7 linked regions of the Homo sapiens genome follow. The protein of the gene in region 1 purifies or fractionates together with the protein of each later gene. This does not show direct contact. Each region holds a gene or a part of one and is shown on either strand. Other genes may lie near its edges. The genes, in order: NIPSNAP3B, ACSF2, MCCC1, TMLHE, PDK2, PDK1 and GLS.

What was found.
Region 2: the proteins of NIPSNAP3B (region 1) and ACSF2 purify together in Homo sapiens (affinity purification with mass spectrometry; one large-scale study listed by BioGRID and IntAct). This does not show direct contact.
Region 3: the proteins of NIPSNAP3B (region 1) and MCCC1 purify together in Homo sapiens (affinity purification with mass spectrometry; one large-scale study listed by BioGRID and IntAct). This does not show direct contact.
Region 4: the proteins of NIPSNAP3B (region 1) and TMLHE purify together in Homo sapiens (affinity purification with mass spectrometry; one large-scale study listed by BioGRID and IntAct). This does not show direct contact.
Region 5: the proteins of NIPSNAP3B (region 1) and PDK2 purify together in Homo sapiens (affinity purification with mass spectrometry; one large-scale study listed by BioGRID and IntAct). This does not show direct contact.
Region 6: the proteins of NIPSNAP3B (region 1) and PDK1 purify together in Homo sapiens (affinity purification with mass spectrometry; one large-scale study listed by BioGRID and IntAct). This does not show direct contact.
Region 7: the proteins of NIPSNAP3B (region 1) and GLS purify together in Homo sapiens (affinity purification with mass spectrometry; one large-scale study listed by BioGRID and IntAct). This does not show direct contact.

The regions. Positions count from the first base shown.
Region 1 is NC_000009.12:104,774,129-104,778,264, reverse strand, and holds the end of NIPSNAP3B (protein NipSnap homolog 3B), read right to left. Parts: 3' UTR 501-4,136; downstream 1-500.
Region 2 is NC_000017.11:50,432,718-50,436,217, reverse strand, and holds part of ACSF2 (medium-chain acyl-CoA ligase ACSF2, mitochondrial isoform 2 precursor), read right to left. Parts: intron 1-3,500. UniProt on the Homo sapiens protein: Acyl-CoA synthases catalyze the initial reaction in fatty acid metabolism, by forming a thioester with CoA. Has some preference toward medium-chain substrates. Plays a role in adipocyte differentiation.
Region 3 is NC_000003.12:183,014,718-183,017,107, reverse strand, and holds the end of MCCC1 (methylcrotonoyl-CoA carboxylase subunit alpha, mitochondrial isoform 1 precursor), read left to right. Parts: intron 1-1,541; coding exon 1,542-1,670; 3' UTR 1,671-1,890; downstream 1,891-2,390.
Region 4 is NC_000023.11:155,511,953-155,515,452, forward strand, and holds part of TMLHE (trimethyllysine dioxygenase, mitochondrial isoform 1 precursor), read right to left. Parts: intron 2,314-3,500; coding exon 2,034-2,313; intron 1-2,033. UniProt on the Homo sapiens protein: Converts trimethyllysine (TML) into hydroxytrimethyllysine (HTML).
Region 5 is NC_000017.11:50,108,851-50,112,350, reverse strand, and holds the end of PDK2 (pyruvate dehydrogenase kinase, isozyme 2 isoform 1 precursor), read right to left. Parts: intron 3,065-3,500; coding exon 2,951-3,064; intron 2,395-2,950; coding exon 2,254-2,394; 3' UTR 199-2,253; downstream 1-198. UniProt on the Homo sapiens protein: Kinase that plays a key role in the regulation of glucose and fatty acid metabolism and homeostasis via phosphorylation of the pyruvate dehydrogenase subunits PDHA1 and PDHA2.
Region 6 is NC_000002.12:172,562,590-172,566,089, reverse strand, and holds part of PDK1 ([Pyruvate dehydrogenase (acetyl-transferring)] kinase isozyme 1, mitochondrial isoform 2 precursor), read right to left. Parts: intron 3,350-3,500; coding exon of another isoform or gene 3,290-3,349; intron 1,980-3,289; exon of another isoform or gene 1,960-1,979; intron 1,588-1,959; coding exon 1,403-1,587; intron 1,113-1,402; coding exon 1,017-1,112; intron 1-1,016. UniProt on the Homo sapiens protein: Kinase that plays a key role in regulation of glucose and fatty acid metabolism and homeostasis via phosphorylation of the pyruvate dehydrogenase subunits PDHA1 and PDHA2.
Region 7 is NC_000002.12:190,960,821-190,963,436, reverse strand, and holds part of GLS (glutaminase kidney isoform, mitochondrial isoform 1 precursor), read right to left. Parts: intron 608-2,616; coding exon 451-607; coding exon of another isoform or gene 411-450; 3' UTR 1-410. UniProt on the Homo sapiens protein: Catalyzes the first reaction in the primary pathway for the renal catabolism of glutamine. Plays a role in maintaining acid-base homeostasis. Regulates the levels of the neurotransmitter glutamate, the main excitatory neurotransmitter in the brain.

The sequences.
Region 1 (4,136 bases):
GAGCGAAACTCCATCTAAAAAAAAAAGTGTGCAAGTTATTGGTACGTATATATTTAAGCCTCGGGACTGAATGAGATTACCTAGAGAGAATGAAGATAGGGAACATTCTTGAGCCTGAGATCCTATAACATTTAGAAGAGAAGCTAGCCAGGGAAATTGAGAGGGACTGGCCAGTGAGAGAGAGTAAAATCTGAAGAGTATAATGCCATATGTTGAAGCTCAGAGAATTATTGTTTCAGGAAGGCAGAAGTTGTCAATTATGTCCAACATTGCTGAGAAGATGAGTAAGGAATGTAAATGAGTAAAGGCAGGAATGGCTATTGAATTTGTTAAGACAGAGGTCCTTGGTGACCTTCCTAAGAGTCATTTCAGCATGACAAGGATGCAGACCTAACTGGAATAGATTTTCAGGGAAGACTGAGAGGCAAGGAAGGGGAGACTGCAAATATATGCAAATCTATATTTTTGCTTTGAAGGGAAACAGAAAACAGGACAACAGCTGGTTTACAGAACTTTTATTTGGATTCTTTCCTTGTCTGTTAATAATATAGGCTGCACCTGGGCATCATCGTGCCCTTCCTTTTTGATTCTGCTGTTTTGCTTTTAATCCTACAGGCATTTCTTCTGGCAGGAGCCTTGTACACACTCTGGGTGGTTCATGACCACCACGGACTTGCCCTTTCAAGGCAGAAGCCTGTGATTCAAAAACTTCCATTCCTTCCAATCGACTATTATAAAACTCATTTTGTCTAGTGCCCATACTCCTTTACCTTAGGATCCTGGGCCAACTGTCACTAAAGAAAACAAACCATTTCCTCCTCCTGGGGGAATGTGCTTCTTTCAAGAAGGTGCTTAGAGAATAGACATTCTAGGTGACAGCAGTTATGAAAGAGGTGTCTCTAATGAACCTAACACTTCTTCCAACATACTCCAGGTTCACCCTCCTTTGAAGACAGAAAGTACTACAACTTCAGTTGCCACCCTAGTCAGGTTCATAGGATTTACTCAGTAGGTTAAGAGATGGTGCTGAGAATGAAGTCCAGAGTTTGAGTCTACAAGTGGCATTTGCTTCTCCTTTGGGACTTCTGTGGCAGGGTGTGGAACCAAATCAGATTGGTTGCATATCTGTTTCTCTTCCTGAAAATACAATTCAAATACCTTCATAGTCTGTGACAGCAACTTATAACCAACAGACAATGGTATTATTTTTATTTATTGATGGCACTCCCCCATAGCCAGAACTTCTACTGAGTCATTCATCGTGTATTCCAGGAATACTTTCCAAATGGAGTAGTGAGGCACTTCCAATAACAGTTATGTAATCTGTTAACAGTGGCTCAAAATGACATGTGAAGGAATGATGTACTTCTTTTTTCAGACTCACAGATCTCATATGTTAATTCAGTCAACAAGTACTTAGGGCTTATCACATGCCAGGCACAGGTAATATGACAATAATGAAAACAAAAACCCTTGCTGTCATAGAATTCGGTTTCTAGTGGGAAGAGACATACATTAACAAATCATATATAAGTAAAACATTAATTATGGTGATAACAGAAAAAGAAAGCAGGGGAGAGGGATAGTGTCTTAGTTCAGGTTGCTGTAACAAGAGTACCATAGACAGGGTGGCTTAAACAACAAACATTTCTTTCTCACAGATCTAGTGGCTGGGAAGTCTAAGACCAGGGTGCCAGCATGAAGAAGTTCTGGTGAAGGCTTACATTCTGGTTTCCTCACAGTGAGGGCTCTTCACGCCCTTATAAATGCACTAATTCTATTACCCACATGACCTCATCTAAAACTAACTCACAAAGGCCAAACCTCCTATGTTGAGATTAAGGCTTCAACATAGGAATTTTGGGGGGACAAAAACATTCAGTCTCTAGCAGATAGGGGCCACTGTGGGAGGGGATTACAATCTTAAATAGGGTTGTCAGGGAAGGCTTCATGAGGGCAAAGACCTGAGGAGGCATGGAAATGATCCACGCAGATGCATGTCTGGGGAAGAGCATTCCAGGCAGAGGCAGTGGGAATGGACCCTCAGGTAAGAGCATGTTTAGCAAGTTCAGAGAAAAGCCTCTTAGGTCAGGTCTGGAGCGAGAGTGGAAAATGTAACAGGACAGATCATGTAAAGACTTGTAGACCACAGTTAGAGGCTTGGACAATAACTCTGAGGATGACATGAAGGTATTGGGAGGGGGTGTTGAGCAGAGGAGTGATATGATCTGGTTTATATTTTAGATTATTCTGACTGCTATGTTGAAAATAGGGTTGAGAGCAGAGGGGAAGGGCAGCACACCAGTTAAGACCACTTCCCAAAAATCCAGATGATGATGGGCTTGAACCAGGAGAGTTGCTATAGGGATGTGAAGCAATCAAATTCTAGATATTTGGGACCTGCTGACAGGTACATAATGGTGTATGAGAGAAAAGGCAGTGTGAGAATGACTCTGAAGTCTGTGGCCTGAGCAAAACAGAAACCTGGAGTTGCCAATAGCTGAGATAAAGTTTCTGGTTAAAGATCAAGAGCTCAGTTTTGGACAAGAGGGGTGTGAGATTTCTAATAGACATTCAGGTGGAGGTGTGGGGAACACACCTGGATGTGATGAGCCTGGAATTCAAATTCACATGTGTGAATTTGAAAAAAGATTCAGAAAAGAGGTGTGGACTGGAGGAGCTATCCACACACAGATAGCATTTGAAGCCACAAGACTGGGGGTGATGACGCAGGGAGTAAGTATAAATAGAAAAGAGAAGTGGTCCAAGGACTCAGTCCTTACATCAGAGGTCAAAGAGACAAGATGGAGACTAGGAGATATGAAGGCTTGTGCAGTGAGTGTTTCGGAGAAACGAAGAAACTTCCCAGAAGAAAGGAGAGGTCAACTGCTAACAAGTCAAGTGAAATGAGAACTGGGAAATGAGTTGACAAGAGCAATTTGGCTGGCGTGATCAGAGAATGTTTAAGAGATAATGTGAGGGAAGAAAATGGAGGCAGGAAGTATGAACTACTCTTTTGAGTCATATTGTAAAGGAAAAAAATGGGGTGATTTTACTCTTTTTTTTTTTTAAAGATAGGAAAAAAAAGTATATTTATATGCTGAGGAGAAGAATCCAGTTGAAGGGGAATACTGTGGCTTCAGGAGACAGGAAAACTGCCTAAGCCACATCCTTCAGCAAGTGAGTGTTCAAGTGGAGGGTTTGTCTTTGCTTGGGGCACGGGCGGTTCATCCACAGTGAAAGGAGAGAAGGCAGGGCATGTGGGGTTGGCTGTAGAAAGCGGGCAGACGGGGTGGGAACTTATGAAGACTCTTCTGATTGTTATTTTCTCTGTTAAGTAAAAGGAAAGGTCATTGGCTAAGAATGAAGATGGACGCGCAGGTGCTGGGAGTCATCGAAGAGAATGAAAGAATGAATAAAATAGAGAAAAATACAATGCTATTATATAAACCTATACATTTAAATTACTTTCCTCTTCAAATTAGACCCCCTGGAAGGCAAATCTCTGTCATGTTAAGTTTTAGGAAAAGTCATAATCTACTTGGAGCTAAGTATGAAGAATAAGGTATATGATTTAAACCACATAATTCTATTTTTGCTTAAACCGGGGAAGCCTTTAAGGTAACGTAGAGTGTACCCATTAAAAAAGATAAAAATGTCAGCTTCCCCTTCCCTTTAAATATAGTAAGGCTCAAAGGTAATTGATGTTCATAACCCTAAGGTACTATAACAGTCTGAAGCAAAATATTAAATGTCTTCTGTAGTATTTTAGTTAACTTTTAATTTTATTGGTAATTTATGTGTAGTTAACCACATACTTGTGCCTCAACTATTTCACATAAATGTGAGATGTCTTAGGCCTCTTTGAACTCTGCATGGAAAAGAATGCTGAGGAGGTATGTCTGTTTAAGCTGCCACTGCCTGCCTCTCATAAATAATATCTCACATTGCATAATAGCCCAGATAAACTGCAGATCGCTTAGAGCCTGATAAATGAGAGGAAACTGTACAGTTTGTTTTCCAAATTGCCCTTGGACAGCTAATTCACAATTTACTATTTTATAGCTGTAAGATTTTAAAAATATAAAATAACATAGCTGTAAATACAGATTATCAGAAGATAGTCTGTAAAAATG
Region 2 (3,500 bases), on another chromosome or scaffold:
GCGGAGGTTGCAGTGAGCCGAGATCGCGCCACTGCACTCCAGCCTGGGCAACAGAGCGAGACTCCGTCTCGAAAAATAAAAAATAAAAAAAATAAAAAATAACAACAACAACAACAACAAAAATGAACTCTGACTAAGTCTCACATTCTATATAAGCAAAAATAAAATGAATCAGACTTAAGTGTAAAAAAAAATTATAAAATCTTCTGGATCTAGAGCTAGGCAAAAAGTTATTAGGCTTGACACCAAAAGCAAGATCCATTAAAAACAAACAAACAACAAAAAAAAACACTCACTGAGCGCTGGGTGCAGTGGCATGCACCTGTAATCCTAGCTACTTGGGAGGCTGAGGCAGGAGAATTGCTTGAACCGAGGAGTTGGAGACCAGCCTGGGCAACATAATGAGATCCCATCTAAAAAAAAAAACTCACTAAACTAGACTTTATAAACTAGACTTAATAAATTAGACTTTATAAAAAAATTTTTTTAAATTGCTATATGGGCTGGGCATAGTGGCTCACGTCTGTAAAGTAATCTTAGCACTTTGGGAGGCTGAGGTGGGAAAATCACTTGAGCACAGGAGTTGGAGACCAGCCTAGGCAACACAGTGCCATCCATCTCTATGAAAAAATTTTTTAAATTAGCTGGGCTTTGTGGCGTGTACCCATAGTCCTACGTACTTGGAAGGCTGAGGCAGGAGGATCACTTGAGCCCAGGAGGTTGAGGCTGCACTGAGCCGTGGTTGCACCACTGTGCTCCAGCCAGGGTGACAGAGTGAGGCCTTTCTCAAAAAATTAAAAAAAAAAAAGGATTAAAAAATTTTGCTCTGCAAAAGACCCTTTTAAGAGGATGAAAAAAAGCTACAAAGTGGGGAAAAACATTTGTAAGCCACATGTCTGACAAAGGAATAATACTAGAATACATACAGAACTCTGAAACATTGAGCTGTTTAATACGTAAAACTCACTTTTGTGAGTTTTTGTCAAGGTTAATGAGCTGCTCCTCCCAAAAGCACTCCTTGGCTTCTGAGCAAAAAAAGCCAGACACAGGCCAGGCACGGTGGCTCACGCCTGTAATCCCAGCACTTTGGGAGGCCGAGACGGGCAAATCACCTGAGGTCGGGAGTTTGAGACCAGCTTGACCAACATGGAGAAATCCCATCTCTACTAAAAATACAAAATAAGTCAGGCGTGGTGGCACATGCGGGTAATCCCAGCTACTTGGGAGGCTGAGGCAGGAGAATCGCATGAACCTGGGAGGCGGAGGTTGTGATGAGCCAAGATTGCGCCATTGCACTCCAGCCTGGGCAACAACAGTGAAACTCTGTCTCAAAATAAAAAAAAGAAAAAAAAAAGATCTGTGCAGTTTACTGTATGTAATTATATCATAAAGCCCCATGATCTTTCTACCACTCGACATAACCACCCTGAGGAGTATGTGACCTCTGAAAAATACCAACTACAAAGAACAAACTACAAACGACTACAAAGACTAGTAAGGACTACAGTAAAAAAAAAAAAAATTATTTTTTTGAGACGGAGTTTTGCTCTTTTGCCCAGGCTGGAATGAGGTGGTGCTATCTCGGATCACTGCAACCTCCACCCACTGGGTTCAAGAGATTCTCCTGCCTCAGCCTCCCGAGTAGCTGGGATTACAGGTGCATGCCACCATGCCCAGCTAATTTTGTATTTTTAGTAGAGATGGGTTTTCGTCATGTTGGCCAGGCTGGTCTTGAACTCCTGACCTCAGGTGATCCACCTGCCTCAGCCTCCCAAAGTGCTGGGATTGCAGGCATGAGCCACCGCACCCAGCCCAGTAAAGATTTTGAACAAGATACTCTATATTGGTGGAAGCTTCCATTCTCAGCATCTTGTTTTGTTATTATTATTATTATTATTTGAGACATGCTCTCACCCTGTCACTGAGGCTAGAGTGTGGTGGCATGATCACGGCTCACTGCAGCCTCGACTTCCTGGGCTCAAGCAATCCTCCTGCCTCAGTCCCCCAGGAAGCTGGAACCACAAGCACATGCCACCACACCCAACTAATTTGTAAAAAGTATTATCTGTAGAGATGGGGTCTCCCTATGTTGCCCAGGCTGGTCTCAAACTTCTGGGCTCAAGCGATCCTCCCACCTCAGCCTCCCAAAGTGCTGAGTTATAGGTGTGAGCCACTGTGCCTGGCCCATTTTCAGCATCTTGAATGGAACCACTGGTGTGTTTGTAAGTATGTACAGAAAATACATAAGAAGTGATAATTTGGGTTTAGAAAACTCTCTCAAGAAGACATAGAAGGGCCAGTGCGGTGGGTCACACCTGTAATCCCAGCACTTTGGGAGGCTGAGTTGGGAGGATCGCTTGAGCCCAGCAGTTTGAGACCACCTGGGGCAACAAAGTGGAAATCTGTCTCTACCAAAACAAAATACAAAAAATTTAGCAAGGCATGGTGGTACACACCTGTAATCCCAGCTATTTGGGAGGCAGAGGTGGGCACATCACCTGAGACTGGGAGGTCAAGGCTACAGTGAGCCGTGATCACGCCACTGCACTCCATCCCAGGTGACAGAGTAGCCTGAAATACTTGGAGTCAGGAGGCATCCATGCTGCAGGTTTTCTTTTGGAATAGCTGGACAGAGACCCCAGGAGAAGAGTGCCTAGGAATCAGGGATGGGGGCTGAGTCAAGACACTTGTCCCTTGATAGGATTACTAAAATACATACAAGGCTAGATATTAGTTTTCTAGGAAGAAAACCTTTGAGGTAGCCAGGTGCACATGGTGGTTTGTGCTTGTAATCCCAGCTACTCAGGAGGCTGAGGAAGTAGGATTGTTTGAGTCCAGTAATCCCAGCATTTTGGAAGGCCAAGGCAGGCGGATCACGAGGTCAGGAGTTTGAGACCAGCCTGGCCAACATAGTGAAACCCCATCTCCACTAAAAATACAAAAAATTAGCTGGGCGTGGTGGCAGGTGTCTGTAATCCCAGCTACTTGGGAGGCTGAGGCAGGAGAATTGCTGAACCCAGGAGGCGGAGGTTACAGTGAGCCCAGATCGCGCCACTGTACTCCAGCCTGGTGATAGTGCGAGACTCCGTCTCAAAAAAAAAAAAAAGAAAAAGAAAAACATATTTAAGTGTGTGTGTGCGTGTGTGTGTATAAAACAAAACTTGATGCTTCTTTTTGCTCAGGGGACTACAGAATTACAGAATGTCAGGTTAGGAAGCTGCATACTCAGGGTTCATAAGAGACCAAGTGAAATTTCACACACGTATGAAGGCTGCATACTTCAAATCACAGCCTTATTGGGTTTAGGGATCAGGCTCAAACTCCAGCCTCTTTAGGAATCACAGAATCTTCTCCCAAAGGTAGAGCACATCTTGTCCAAACAGCCTATTTTACAAACAAACTAAGGTCTGCGGAGGTTCAGTAACTTGCCTAAAGCCACACTAAGTTAGGACTGGTAGGACTGGGATTTGCTTTCCCGTCAACTAACTCCCAAATGGAGG
Region 3 (2,390 bases), on another chromosome or scaffold:
TAGAAAAGAGTTTTACTTTAACTTTGTGAAATTGCACCTGTCATTTCTGATTCTGAAATTAATGAAATTATCAATAGCTTGGAATCAGGCGATAATCCAACTGAATGTTAACTGTTGGTATTTTCTAAGATAATCCAACTGAATGTTAACTGTTGGTGTTTCTGGAATGTTAACTGTTGGTATTTTCTAATGTTAACTGTTGGTATTATCTTGGTTCTAAGGCCGAACCAAGGATGCCAGGCATCAGTTTCAAAGTGAAAACCGCAATCAAATTAAATTAGCTGTTTAGGTTTTTAGATGGTTCAAATGGTAGGTCAGTGATTCTTAGCCCTGGCTGAATATTGCAGACAGTCCTCAACTTACAATGGTTCAATTAAGGATTTTTCAGCTTGACAATGGTGCAAAACCATACACGTTGAATATGCTCCTCAGCTTACATTGGATTTATCTGGACCTGACCCCATCGTAAGTCAAGGAGCATGTGTACAGTCACCTGGGGAGATTTGAAAAAATTCTTCCCCAGACCCATTGAATTGCAATCTCCAGGAGTAGAGCCCAAGGATCAATACTTTTGAAAGGCTGGGCGCAGTGGCTCATGCCTGTAATCCCAGCACTTTGGGAGGCAGAGGCAGGCGGATCATTTGAGGTCAGGAGTTCACGACCAGCTTGGCCAACATGGTGAGACCCCATCTCTATTAAAAATACAAAAATTAGCCAGGCATGGTGGTGCATGCCTGTAATCCCAGCTACTCAGGAGGCTGAGGCAGGAGAATTGCTTGAACCTGGGAGGCAGAGGTTGCAGTGAGCCGAGATCTTGCCACTGCACTCCAGCCTGGGTGACAGAGCGAGACTCCGTCTCAATTTAAAAAAACAAACAACAAGGCCAGGCGCAGTGGCTCACGCTTGTAATCCCAGCACTTTGGGAGGCCGAGGTGGGTGGATCATGAGGTCAGGAGTTCAAGACCAGCCTGGCCAACATAGTGAAACCCCGTCTTTACTAAAAATACAAAAATTAGCCAGGTGTGGTGGCACACACCTGTAGTCCCAGTTACTTGGGAGGCTGAGGTGGGAGAACCGCTTGAACCCGGGAGGCAGAGGTTACAGTGAGCTGAGACCATGCCGTTGCACTCCAGCCTGGGTGACAGAGTGAGACTCCGTCTCAACAGCAACAACAACAAAAAACAAAAAAAAAAAAACAAAAGCAAGCAAACAAAAAACTGTTGAAAGCTTCCTAGGTGCAATTCTCATGTGAAGCTCAAGTTGAGAACTGCGAGCTACACCAGAGCTTCCCAGTCATATCGTTGAAAGGTTACTGCTGTGTCCCAGTGTTCATTCCTCTCAACTTGTTACTGTTCTCCCTGTGTGCTGTGATGTTAAAAATAAAAACAACAACAACAACAAAGCGTTGGAAAGCACCGAGAGATGACAAAACATCAAAGTTGGCTACAGTTTTCATTTTTGGTCTCCCTTTCTTGACTTGGTGTATACTCAGTCCTCATTAGTATTGCAGCTATCATTTGTCCTGTCATGTGTCTCTGCAGCATACCATAAAGTCTCCAAAGGATGGCACAGTAAAGAAAGTGTTCTACAGAGAAGGTGCTCAGGCCAACAGACACACTCCTTTAGTCGAGTTTGAGGAGGAAGAATCAGACAAAAGGGAATCGGAATAAACTCCAGCAAGGAAATGGCCAGTTAAGTAGTGTCTTCTCTCTCCACCAAAAAGAGGAAGTGCCTCCAGCTTTTCTGGGGGTCTCATAAAGAGCAGTTTTACTAAATGATTGTATGCTTATGCTGAACACCTTTCATATTGGAGAATCATGCATTTGGGTCACTAATTATCTCAAAATATTTCATACTAATAAAGTTGAATTATTTTTTATTGGAAGCCAATGTTTGTTTCTGCCTCAAATTTTTTACAAGGTAGTCTCTTTTAGGAAGGGGGGAAGAGAAAAGGACATTTAATTAAATGAATTACTTTCCAGTTGCTGTTATGATGAAAATGAGCAGTAATATGTTTCAGAGACAGGTGCCCTGGAGTTCAACAACTAAGGTTTTGTCTGGCCAAAAAGCAACTTGCTAGGTAGTTTAAAAGACATGGATATTAGTCGGGCGCGGTGGCTCACGCCTGTAATCCCAGCACTTTGGGAGGCCAAGGCGGGCAGATCACTTGAGTTCAGGAGTTCGAGACCAGTCTGGCCAATATAGTGAAACCCGTCTCCACAAAAAATAAGCTGGGTGTAGTGGTGAACATCTGTAGTCCCAGCAACTTGGGAGGCTGAGGCAGGAGAATCGCTTGAACCTGGGAGGCAGAGGTTGCAGTAAGTCGAGACCGCACCACTGCACTCTAGCCTGGGTGACAGAGCGAGACTCTATCTCAAAACAAATACATA
Region 4 (3,500 bases), on another chromosome or scaffold:
AGTCTTGACAATTCTGTCACTTATTAACATTCTAGAAAGTTGGGGAGAAAACTGTGGAAGTATAATATTGTATTATGAAAGCTTGGAGAATCATCCCACTCTGATTATGTGCCCAGTTTTCATAGCCTTCATAAATTCAAGGTTCTTTTCTATGCTCACCTTTCTTTCACAGAAAAAGATATAGCTGCTTCTGGAAGTGATTTTTTTATTTTATTTTATTAATTATTATTATACTTTAAGTTTTAGGGTACATGTGCACAATGTGCAGGTTTGTTACATATGTATACATGTGCCATGCTGGTGCGCTGCACCCACTAACTCATCATCTAGCATTAGGTATATCTCCCAATGCTATCCCTCCCCCCTTCCCCCCACCCCACAACAGTCCCCAGAGTGTGATGTTCCCCTTCCTGTGTCCATGTGTTCTCATTGTTCAATTCCCACCTATGAGTGAGAATATGCGGTGTTTGGTTTTTTGTCCTTGCGATAGTTTACTGAGAATGAGGATTTCCAATTTCATCCATGTCCCTACAAAGGACATGAACTCATCATTTTTTATGGCTGCATAGTATTCCATGGTGTATATGTGCCACATTTTCTTAATCCAGTCTATCATTGTTGGACATTTGGGTTGGTTCCAAGTCTAACTTTATTTACTATTTTTATAGCTGTTGTCTTTTATTAGTACCATTTTTTCAATAATGGTGGTCATTTCCTAATATTTTGGATAATCCAATTTGCAAGGATGACTGAAGAGTTCTCATATTATTTATAAGACACAGAAGTGATTAATGTAGATCCTCACTCATCTTTTGGACATGGAGGAATAAAGAAAAGAGAAAAGGATAGTTTGTGTTAGCAAGTATTTAGTGAGACTTGCTGTACCATTGTTGTTGTGTCTCTCCTTGAAGTATACATCATATATTTTGATTTTGTAATTATTTTCCTGTTCGGCTCAAATCTGACTAAAGGTCACTTTAATTCTTTAGCTTTCAAAGTTCATCTTATTTTCTGAACCCTTGAAGTTCAAATAGGAAATGCTCTTCCTTTTGAACTATCATCCCTAAAACTGTCTCAATTTATCACTTACCAGCACAGTTTCTTTCACTTGAAAGTTCTCAAACTGTGATTCAAACTGAATGGCTCACAGATGCTGTTGATTATGCTCTACCAGCACAGGGAAGAAGACCCAGCATACTATCTACTACAAAATGAGCTATATCTGGATCTTATTAAGTAAAAGGAAAGTACTAATTATAATAAAGTAGGTTGACATCACACTTAATACTATAGAAGATCAATCTATATACCACCCAAAAGTGCGTAATGGTAATGAAAAAAACAATGTATTTAGGATTAGGAAACCTGGGCTATTTGAATTCAAGTTCTATTGTTTACTAGTAGAGCACTCCTGGGCAAGACACTTGGTATATTTGAGTGTCAGTGCCTCAGCAGTAAAACGGGGACAAAACACACACTGATCAGGGTTCCTATAATAATTAAAAGAAAATAATGGGTGGGAATGTGCTGGCTGAATGCTATATAGCCTTTTAAGGCAGTGTTATTAACAATCAGTCTCTGAATCAAGCCACAGGAATCACAGAAGGTCAAATTGAACAGATGGGAAAATAGAGGACAGTGGGGGTCGAGGGGGTGTGTGTGTGTGTGTGTGTGTGTAATGGACATGCCTATGGTCACACAACTACTTGATGGTAGAACTCAGACTACTATCCAGTTCTCCTTACAGTCAGTGTTTTTTTCCAGTGTACAATAATACCTGTCACTTGGGATCACTGGGCTAGAAACATATTACCAATGACTCTGCAGTCATCATTATATTTTACACATAAGTGTATTTAGAGATTAGAAATCCAGACCTCAAATAAAGTACTGCAAGTGAGAGTCCCTTATTCATGCTACAAAATATTCTGGATTGAAAACGAGGGTGACCATACCTGTTACATTTATTTATTGGTGTTCATGCTCTGGAAATTAATTATAATACTGTGGATTTTAGGAAACAAATGAATTACCTGATTAAGCTGATCCTTTCTGCCAACTTCTCTGTGTGCTCTTGAGTGGGAGGGACATTTTCTACGAATGCAATTCCATAGAGCAGAAAGTTTTGCAGAAACTTCTTCAGTCCCTCGTTGGTTTCTAAGAAGCTCTGGCAATCTACCGATGGAACTTGGGCTTGCTGGTAGATTTCAGCATTCCATAGTATTCTAGGCTGGATGACTTTTTGTTTCTGCCCTTCATAGCTGTTTTTCACCAGCCAATTCAAATCATATTTAGTCACATGACCATCTGGCCCTTTTAAGGGGAAAAATAAAAGGCACTATAATAATTACAAATAATGTCAATATTTGTAATTGGTTACAACTAGTTAAGAATCTTTTTCCTAGCAATCAGTTATCCAGTACTGTATTGTTTATGAAACCAAATTAAAATGAATGCCTAGAATGTTTCTGAGAAAGAAATATGTGTGGTTTGAGTGGTATGCATGAATAAATGAATGAACAAATAAATCTTCCCAGAGGCTAAATAAGTTTACAGAATTATAGTTATATAGTAAAAGATCTTCTGGAAAATTCATCAAGTCATCAAAGAATGATAATCCAAGTAGGCTTTTACAAGCCTACTTGGCACTCTCTCCCCTTGCCCCCATCCCTGTCTTCCATCTATATAGGAACTCAGAATGTTTGAGCTAGAAGGGGCTAATCTTTATTTTACAGATGGAGAAAAAGTCAGTGACTCACTCAAGATCACACAACTAAGTACTATAGGTGGAACTAGAACCCCACCTTCTTGCTGCTACAAGTTCAGTACTATTCAATGCTGCCTTCCTCTTCTACATGATGTAGGACATTGCTGTCTAATTATATGACATCAACACAATACAATAAAATTACTTTGTAAGTGGCTTCACCTGCTGTGCACACCCCACCCAAAAAAAGTTGAAAACCAACCCTGAAATGCTTTAGAAAATCTTCAGGATAAGCAAAGGAAGCAGCAGAAGGAGTGAAAGACTATGTTGACAACTTGTCTCTCCTTTTTACTTCTCTCTCTTTTCCTCCCTCCCCTTGGTAAAAAAGTATCACACTTTGGATAATTTGGAAAGCATAAAAAAGTATGAGGAAATTAAAAGTCACCATGTTTATCATTCTATCACCCAGATGAAACTATGATTGACAGCCTGGCATCATTCCTTCCAGTTTTTCTGTACATTCTCTTATTTTATGTAATTTATGTATATAAATATAGTTTATGTAATTTATATATATAAAATTTGGGACTCTGCCATTGTCACTTAACATTTTAACAATTTTTAAAATTAAATTTTATCATTTTAAAAATTCAACCTTCATTAAAATTAATTTTTAAAGCTTACAAAATATACATTACCAAGATTTACCTAACCCATCTGTTATTCTGGGTATGTACATTTATTTTTAAAAAATTTCCTATTATTTATTAGTGATCATCTTTAACCATATTTC
Region 5 (3,500 bases), on another chromosome or scaffold:
AGTCGCACTCAGGGTAGACTCCCAGCCAAACTCCTCAACAGGAGCGCAGAGAAAGCAGCCTGGGGCGAGTGCAGTCTTTGCCAGGACTCAAGAGGGGAGGATGAACATCCCCTTCTCCCTCTCCCCTCCTCTGTCCTGTGGGTCCCAGGGGGCGAGATGACACCACACAGGTCTGCCTCTCAGGGCCCATTCAAGACCTGGTCTTTGACCCATTCTCCAAGCCAGGACTCCCTTCACTTCCTGCTGCTTCCTCAGAGGGCACCTAAGTCCTCTTTGGGAGCTGAGCAAACAGGAACTGATAGGGACAGAGGACACCACTTCCACCAGCCAAGGCCTAGGAGCTGCTGACCTGGTCAGCCCTCACCCCAGCCAGGCAGAGAGGCAAAACCTGGGGGTCCCCGGCAGCTACGAGATTGGAAAGGTTCATCAGCCCTCCCCCATCTGCCCCAGGCATTGTCAGGGAATCAGTGGGCTCAGAACTGGCAGGCGGTGCAAGCTCTGCTTCCCTGGGCCACACTGAGGGCTGGGGCCAGCTCCCTGGATGGGGGTGGAGTTTACCAGCAGCCTGGGGACAGCATGTGTCCTTTTTAGGAAATGTCCTTGGAGGAAGTGTTCATGTGTGGCGCTGGTCAGCAGCTAGTCCCGCTTCCAGGACACTGGTCAGAGTTACCGATGAGGCCTGGGGGCTCCCGCTTGGAAACCCCTCCAGCTCCTCCCATCTGCCCAGACAGAGCGGCAGATGGCACCAATGCATGCTGGCTCCCTCATTCCTGCCCAGGGGCTGTGGCTTACGGCCAGCACCCTGTACCTGGGACTCAGCCCTTATCCCCCCTCTGCTATCTGTGCTGGGAGAGGGGCTTCGGAGGGAAACAGATATGAGGACACTGGCACCATCTGGGCCTGGTGGCAGGGCCATGGGAGGTTGGAAGGCACCCACATCCTTAAAGCCATCAGTAGCTATAGTGGGTGCCCACCTGCATGTGAAGGGGAGGCAGTTCTCAATTTATTTCAATAAATCCTTATGATGTGCCAGTGACCAGAATTTCTGTCTGCTCCAGTTGTTGGGTTGGCCGGACTCTGCTGGGCCCTGAGTATGGTGGGACAACAGGTCTGTCACCAGGTGCTGGGCCATCCGGCGTTCTGAACAGATGGCTTTGCCCAGTGTTTTACTCACAGTCCTGAGCTGGGCCGGACGTCCCCGGTGCGTCATGTGGTGGTCACAGGGCACCGCAGTGTGCGTGTGTACGTGCGCACGTGTGGGTCCCCTCCCCCAGGGATGCAGCCAGGCCAGTCTCATTCAGTCTCCTCTTTACTGTGGGTGTGGGTGTCACTGTCACTGCCACAGCCACTGGGAGGGACACACAGCTTTAACCCCTGTGTGCTTAGGGGAAGGGTGGGGGCATTCAGGGTTATAAAACTAACTATATACACAGAAGGTCCTAGGGAGAAAGCCACCCTGAGCACACATGTCTGGGCACAGTGGGGGCTGGGGGCTGGAGCTCAGGCAGGATGGACTAGGCTTGTGGAGGAGCGGGTGGGCATGAGCATGTGAGGACATGCTGGGAGGGCTCAGGAGGTGGCACAGACATTGCCAAGGCCACTGCAGGGCCTCGAGCAGCTTGGCTGGATGGCAAGCTCTCGGTCTAACAAGGTTCTTCCACTTTAGAGTTGGGCCCTGTGAGAGCCACCCCCTCCGCCACCGACCTTCAAGCCCTGAGCGGAGGGAGAGGCTGCAGGACCAGCCTCATTCCCCACTCACGGGTGTAACTCCTTTCCCCACTCAGTCCCCAGGTCTGGAGGGCACCCACCCTCTTCCTAACACTTCAGCAGGCCAAGGCCAGGGTGCCTTTGTGGGCTGGGGGAATAAGGCAACGGGACATCCACTTGGAAGGCCTGTGCTGTGGAGGGTGCTGAGGGGGACCCAGTACCCCTGGCAGAAAAGTGACAGCCCTGGTCTCAGAGAGGAGGACTGCCATGGGAAAATGTCTCTGGGACACCCCATCAGGGTGGAGACATCCCTAACCCTCAGGCATCGCCCACAGAGATAGGGAGGCCACCGAGGGGTCTCCACAGAGATGGACTGGCACTTAGGGACCATCACAGACCTATCACCGCAGTGACTTCCATAGAGACAGAACCTGGTCATCAGGGAGAACCCACCCCCTGCTCCCCCAGGAGGATGGTGAGGGGCACCACGGTGGGGGGACCCAGAGGCGGCAGTCCGTCCTCTCAGGTGCAGATGCACGGCGGCCCTTAGCTGACGCGGTACGTGGACGTGTTCTTGGGCTCCGTGCTGGGCACACACCAGTCGCCGGCCTCCTGGATGGTCTGGTAGTGGCGCCAGGCTGACTTGTTGTAGACAGGCAGGCGCTCCACCGAGTCCGTGGACAGGGCCTGGGGAGTGTCAGGGTCAGCCCCTCCCACCTCCCTGTGCCTTGTCCACTCCTCAGCAGACCACCCCACCCCAGCTCAGCGGCAGCCCAGCTGCCAGACACGGGGGCCTGGAAAGACCACAAAAGGGTGGTCCCTCCTGTGTCCCGCTCCTGCCCATTCAAGCAAGCAGCTCCCTCTAAGGGAGGGAGAGGGAGGGGGAGGAGGCTGGGCTGTGTGACCCTGAGCAAGTCACGGACTCCGGGCCTCAGTCTTCTCCTCTGAACTGAATGGCAAGACCTAGGGTGTCCCCTTCCTTCTGGGTCTAACAAGTCAAGGGTTCCCAGCACAGGGGTCTTAATCATAGACCACAGACTCCCCTAAATTCCCTGACAAGCAGTGCGTGTCTGGGGGTTGAGGGTTCTTCAGGTTGAGGAACTGTAGCTTTGCTTGGATTCTCAGAGTCTGGGGCCAGGGAAGGACTGGGGGGATGGAAAGGAAAGCTCGCAGCTGGCCAAGGCTGCCCAGGTCCTATCAGCAAAGCTCTTCTCCAGCTGGGCTCTGCGGGAAGGGCCCTCACCTTGAGATAGATGACAGCATCGGTCCCAAAGCCTTCCATGGAGAAGAGCTGCAGGTCTCCCTGGAAGTACTTGGCGTAGAGGCGGGAAATGGGGAGCCCATAACCAAAGCCAGCCTGCAGCGGGGCAGGAAGGCAGTGAGGATGAGGAGGCTGGCAGGGGCCTCCTGGAGCTGCAGGGACTGATGCAGGGAGGGAAGGGTGTGGAGCTGGGGTCACATGGCAGGGGTCCCAGAGCTGGGAGGGGACATGTGGGAGGGGACACTGAGGTAAGAAGTGTGTGTGGGGTGAATGGGGCAATCATGAATGCGGGAGGGAGGCTTGGGCAGAGAGAGGAGTTCCGCTCAGGGGCCAGGAAGTCAGAGCAGGCCCCACGGCTCCTTTGAGTCTCAAGTTTTCTAACAGGGAGGTGCTGACAAGTTGGACAACACCAGGAGAAAGGTAGAAATTGGGGGTTTGGGAGCTACAGAAGAGAGGGAAGATGGAGGAAAGGTGACAGAGAGACATCCGACAGGTGAGATCTGTGCAGACTGGGGAGATGTGGGAGGTGCGG
Region 6 (3,500 bases), on another chromosome or scaffold:
AACACTCTTATCCATTGTTTGAAACCTTTTTGGAGATACCAAAATTTTATATGCATTTAAATGTTTTTAATTCTAGGAATCTCACCTCTAAAATACTAGCAAAAGTGAGCGTGTATTTAAGGATGTTCACAGCAGTACTGCTGGTATTGGTGGTAACAGAAAAAAATTAAAACAACCTAAGTGTGCATGAACAGGAGAATTAATTAACACATACTGATACATTCCATAGAGCCATTCAAAACCTTGGAGCATATCCAGATGTACTGAACAGCAAGATGTCTGTAAACTTGTAGAAAAAAACATAGAGCACCCCATTTTCTAAAAACAACAATGTAAGACCAACATCAATTGTGTATGTGTACAAGTGGTATAAATAGAAAAAAGTGTGAAATGATTCAAACCAAATTGTTATGAATTACTGCTCATAGTGTAAGAATTAGAAACAGGGCAGTAGGGACTTCAATTCTTTTTTAAGTGAAAGATACCCTCAGCTGGGCTCGGTGGCTCACGCCTGTAATCCCAGCTCTTTGGGAGGCCGAGGCAGGCAGGCAGGCAGGCAGGAGTTCCAGACCAGCCTGGCCAACATGGTAAAACCCTGCCTGCACTAAAGATACAAAAATTAGCCAGGCGTAGTGTTGAGCATCTGTAATCCCGGCTACTGGGGAGGCTGAGGCAAGACAATCGCTTGAACTCAGGAGGCAGAGGCTGCAGTGAGCTGAGATCACACCACTGCACTCCAGCCTGGGCAACAGAGTGAGACTCTGTCTCAAACAAAACAAAACAAAACAAAAAAGATATCCTCTATAGTATCACCAAACTTTGCCTAACAAATAATTCTATCAATAAAATAGTCATCCTATACATAATGCACAAATAATACTATAAGGTTATTTTCAAACCCATGCATTTGTGCCTACCATTTTATCTCATGATACAAATAGATGTTTTAATAGTAAGAAATAACAATAATTTTGATTTTTGTATCTTTTTTTGCAAGGAGAAATGTCAGTATTTACCTTTAATAACTTCAAGTACATTGCAGTTTGGATTTATGCTTCCAATGTGTTTTCGATGAGATGGACTTCCTTTGCCTTTTCCACCAAACAATAAAGCTATCCAAAAAGGAAAAAAACCAACAAAATAAGCTAAACCACCTAATGCTCTTTTCCAAATCTGAATACTGTTTAAATTGTACCAAACAGAACAAATATTTTCCTTTAGGATAAACATAGTATTTTACATTCAATAAAAACACCTTTCTTGATGGCAGTCTATTTATTTTTCTTAATTAGCCAAAAGGTAAAACTAAATTTCCTACCTAAATGGAACTTTCCTAAATAAATTTAAAATATGCCAACACATCTCATTTAGCTTCTTCTCTTGACTCATGAGGGACACTTACAGTGCTGATTGAGTAACATTCTAATTGAAATGCGACTCATGTAGAATCGATCCAAAAAGTACTGAACATTCTGGCTGGTGACAGGATCCACCCCAAAGCTCTCCTTGTATTCAATCACACCCTGGGCCATTGTGGGAATGACATCATTGTGTCGGTTTCTGATCCGTATCACAGTATCTGTAAAGCTAAACAAACCCATCTGTCAAAACAGCCAAATATTTTGACAAGTAAACTTAATACAAAAATATAAGCTTAACCAACTATGCTAGACAAAAAATCCCCAATTTAATAAAAGGAAAATCGGTTCATGTTTTCCTATACTTATTTAAATGTATTTCAGATCATAAAATATACCAAATCTATGAAAGTATACAGACCTCCAAAATAAAACTTTCAAGATTTAATTCTTTTCTTGGCTTCCTAAGAGTAAGGCTGCCACAAAACGTAATCCAAAAAATGTTAATGGTTTTAACTGTTATCAACTAAGGTCATCTGAGCACTGGCTAAGAGGATGGTATTCCAGAGACATTCTGCATAGGAGGAGACAAAGCACTTGCCTCTAGAGAACACCTGCTCTGCTCTGCAAGGAATCAAGATGAATGAGCCAATAAAGCCTGCCTGTTTTGGACCTATTCCCTAGGGTTCAAAGAGAGAAGGAAACACTTAGGACAGAAAAACAGAAAAGAATTCTCATTTCACTCATCCTATGAGTTTATAAAATGGGAGAGGAAAAGTAAACAATTATATTAAAAGACAAATCTTCAAATCATCTAGTCTTCCCATCTCTGTCACTTAGAAGACACTGCATGGTTAAATAACTAAATAAAAGAGAAAATAAGTCTTTTTTTTTTTTGAGATGGAATTTTGCTCTTGTTGCCCAGGCTGGAGAGCAATGGCGCAATCTCGGCTCACTGCAACCTCCACCTCCCGAGTTCAAGTGATTCTACTGCCTCAGCCTTCCTGAGTAGCCGGGATTATAGGCATGTACCATGATGCCTGGCTAATTTTGTATTTTTAGTAGAGACAGGGTTTCTCCATGTTGGTCAGGCTGGTCTCGAACTCCCGACCTCAGACGATCCGCCCGCCTCGGCCTCCCAAAGTGCTGGGATTACAGGCGTGAGCCACCGTGCCCGGCCCAAGAAGTCTTAATTATGCAGTAACGAAACCAATTTTCTAACATAACCCATCTGAATTTACACTTCCAAATGAGTGCTTTCCTATTCAAAGTCATCATCCTGAGTACTATTAACTTATTCCAATGATGTTTCCACTGCTTAAAACATTTTTGGAATTCCTAGTTAGTAATGCGCTTCAAAACAAGACTGTTAAACTAAAATACAAACAACAAAACTCTTCAAAAACAACAAACAACTCATCATTCTAGTCACTCCTTTATTATTTTCTTTCTGCTTCAAAGAAACACAAATCTGTATTATTCTGCTTGACTACTTATTTTCCACAGCTCTGAATGACTGTTTTCAGAAGGCTCTATAACATAATGTTTACTTTTAAAGTAAGACTGCTTGGATTCTACCATTTGCTAACTATGTAACCTTAAACTACTTACCCTCTTTGTGCACAAACAGCATTATTTCAATGAATTGTTTTAAAGATTAAAAAACATCATTCATGTAAAGTCTGCTCAATACCTAAGCAAGGAGTAAACTCTTGCTGAAGTTATTTTCAGATTAAAATCATGTTTAAAAAAATGAAGTGTTACTGTTCACTTTAAAGACAGTCCAAAAAACATGTGTAACTAACTGAGGACAAGAGATGGTCATTACACTCTCAGTACCCTTCACTGCAATAAGCAGGTAGCTGCATAAGGCAAATACTTTGGTTTACCAATTCTGGTATATGGGTTATTAACATTGTCATATTACTTACATCATCTTGCAGGCCATACAGCATAAACTAGAGACCTGCAACCATGTTCTTCTAGGCCTTCTGTGTTTTAAAAAATGTTTTAATTAGTTACCAATCTTTCAAAAGTGAGAGATTTTACATTACAAATCTAGACTTGTAGCTTTCCTTTAAAATCAGAAAACAATCAGATGATATGGGCAGTATTTTCATATGGCAAAGATCAGCTGGGGCT
Region 7 (2,616 bases), on another chromosome or scaffold:
TTGTTCAAACACTTAAACTAAATTTGTATTTGAAGTCTTGAAAATCACACTATTTGCTTCTAAAGGCAACCTTGACCCATTTGGACAGACTGTACAACAGAGCTTACTTTATAAATGCATATCAGCAGATCATCACCATAAATTGAAAATTCACAAAACACAAATAAATCATGGAAGACCACACAAGCTAGCATTGGTAACTATTTCTTTTACATCAAATTATACAATGCACGAGGTAATATTGCTCACATTATGGAGGGAGATTGTTTTATTTCTATTTTTTCCCAAAGAGATCAGATTTGTCCTGTGTGCACAATGAAGAAAACTCCAGTAACACTGAAATGACAAATGTAAAATATACATCACTACCAGATAGAAATACACATGTTCTTCATAATCATTTTCCACAATTAAATAGGTAAGTGATTTAAATCTTGGGATTTGAGACCATTACAACAATCCATCAAGATTCTTATGGACGGTTTGATTTTCCTTCCCGTTGTCAGAATCTCCTTGAGGTGTGTACTGGACTTGGTATTCTTGGAGAATTTTAAATACATCATGGTGTCCAAAGTGCAGTGCTTCATCCATGGGAGTGTTATTCCACCTAAACACGTAGCACAGCATGGACAGGGTCATTAGGTAATTTATGTACAAAGATGATCACCCCACATTCCTAGATTTTAAATGCAGGTTAAATGGCCAAATTTAGCTATTTTAGCAATTTTACAAATAAAAATTAATAATAGAAATGCAGAAAGGGATTTATAATTCAAAAAGTAGTCTCCAAGACAAGTTGGGATATGGAGAGGAAGAGAAAAAGATCTGTGAAAGGATCTTGTTTACACATCCAAGTGCTTATGGAGGGAGCTTTTTAAGGAAAGTCCTTGTGGTGACAGATATAATAGACTGCTCTAGGGTTCCAGAATTTTAGTTTCATGAAAAGCCCAAAGTATCTCTTTTAAAATAAAATGTTCAAAGAAAATTCAGGCATATAACATCCATCACTCTAGCCTTTGACAGAAAATTAGTGTTTGTGTCAATTCAAAGCCACAGTAAGTCTCAGAAGTCTAGAAATAACCATGACCTCATTAGGGCTAAAACACACTGGAGGAGCAAGATTGGCCCCAAAGGAATTGACATTTTTATCACCTCTGGTAAGGCTGGGAAGCCATGGACTCAATCGGACCACTACACCAGAAGAGTAACTCCCCTTTCCATACTAATAACTCCCCTTTCCATGCTTCTGGGGCTGTGCTGTTTAGAGTGATGTAGATGAATATTCAAGGATAAGAAGAAATGAAGAGTTGCCAGAAGTGGTTAATCACTTGCCAGAAGTGGTAAGTCTTTTGCAAGAGGAGACAGAACTACATAACTCACAGCCCTAGTCAATGACAGGGTACGATGGGTAGTTCCCTTACACTTTACAAACTGTGAAGCCTGTCTTCCTACCCAATCTCTCTCTCTACTTACATTACAAAATTCTCCATGGCTGATGATCTCTCTTTCTTCATCCATGTGCCACTGGCACCACCTTCCTAGTTTCACTTCTTCCTGTTTCCTTCTTTCCTTTCCATCTCTGTCCTGAACTTTTTACCCGCTTAGTGGAGTCACAATATGGAAACGAAAGGTTTTTAAAACAGTCTCATTTTTTAATATATTTGGATAAATTTTGGTAGCCTGTTTTTAAAATCAGGTAAGTAAAACTTTACATGTATCTTTGTATTTATCAAAAAAAAAAAAAAAACAGCTGAATTAAGTGACTTTGAATAGGCCTTCATTAGTTTAGGAAGTCAGTGGCTTGAAACAGACTTTTGAGTCATCCTCTACAGTATGTAATTATCTGTCTTTCTGGAAAAATGGAATGTCAACTGCGTGTTACCTTTTTTACAATTCTTCTGTGAATTAATGAAAAATATGAACTTTAAAGAATACACTAATTTCAGCCAGATACAGTGATGCCTGTAATCCTATCACTTTGGGAGGCCAAGGTGGGTGCACCACTTGAGGCCAGGAGTTCAAGACCAGAATGACCAACATGGCGAAACCCCTCTCTACTAAAAATACAAAAATTAGCTGGGCGTGGTGGAACACACCTGTAATCCCAGCTACTCAGGTGGCTGAGGCAGGAGAATTGCCTGAACCTGGGAGGCAGAGGTTGCAGTGAACGAGATCACGCCACTGCACTCCAGCCTGGGCAACAGAGCAAGACTCTATCTCAAGAATTCACGAATTCTGTGCAAACCTATTATAATTTAAGGTGACACTGATTCTATGAAATAGAGAAAAAGACTTGTTGAATGCCTAGTTATCAAGTTAGTTACTTAGCTCACTTTTTCTTATCAGGTGGGTACATCTACTTTCACATTCCTAGAGGCCAATTTAGGGCAAAAAAAATTAATACATATACAAAGCACAGTAATATTTCCAACATGTATTACATAGTGTTTTAGTTGGGATTATAAACACAGGAGGAAAATGCTCTTCAATTTTTTGCTTTAGAAACCTGGGGTGGGTATTAAAATTTGGGGAAAGGGAAGAAGACTGTCAACCTAACATGAGGTTTTAGAATACTGCCAATAAAGGAGTTTTTAATCATAGTGCTTTTTTACAACT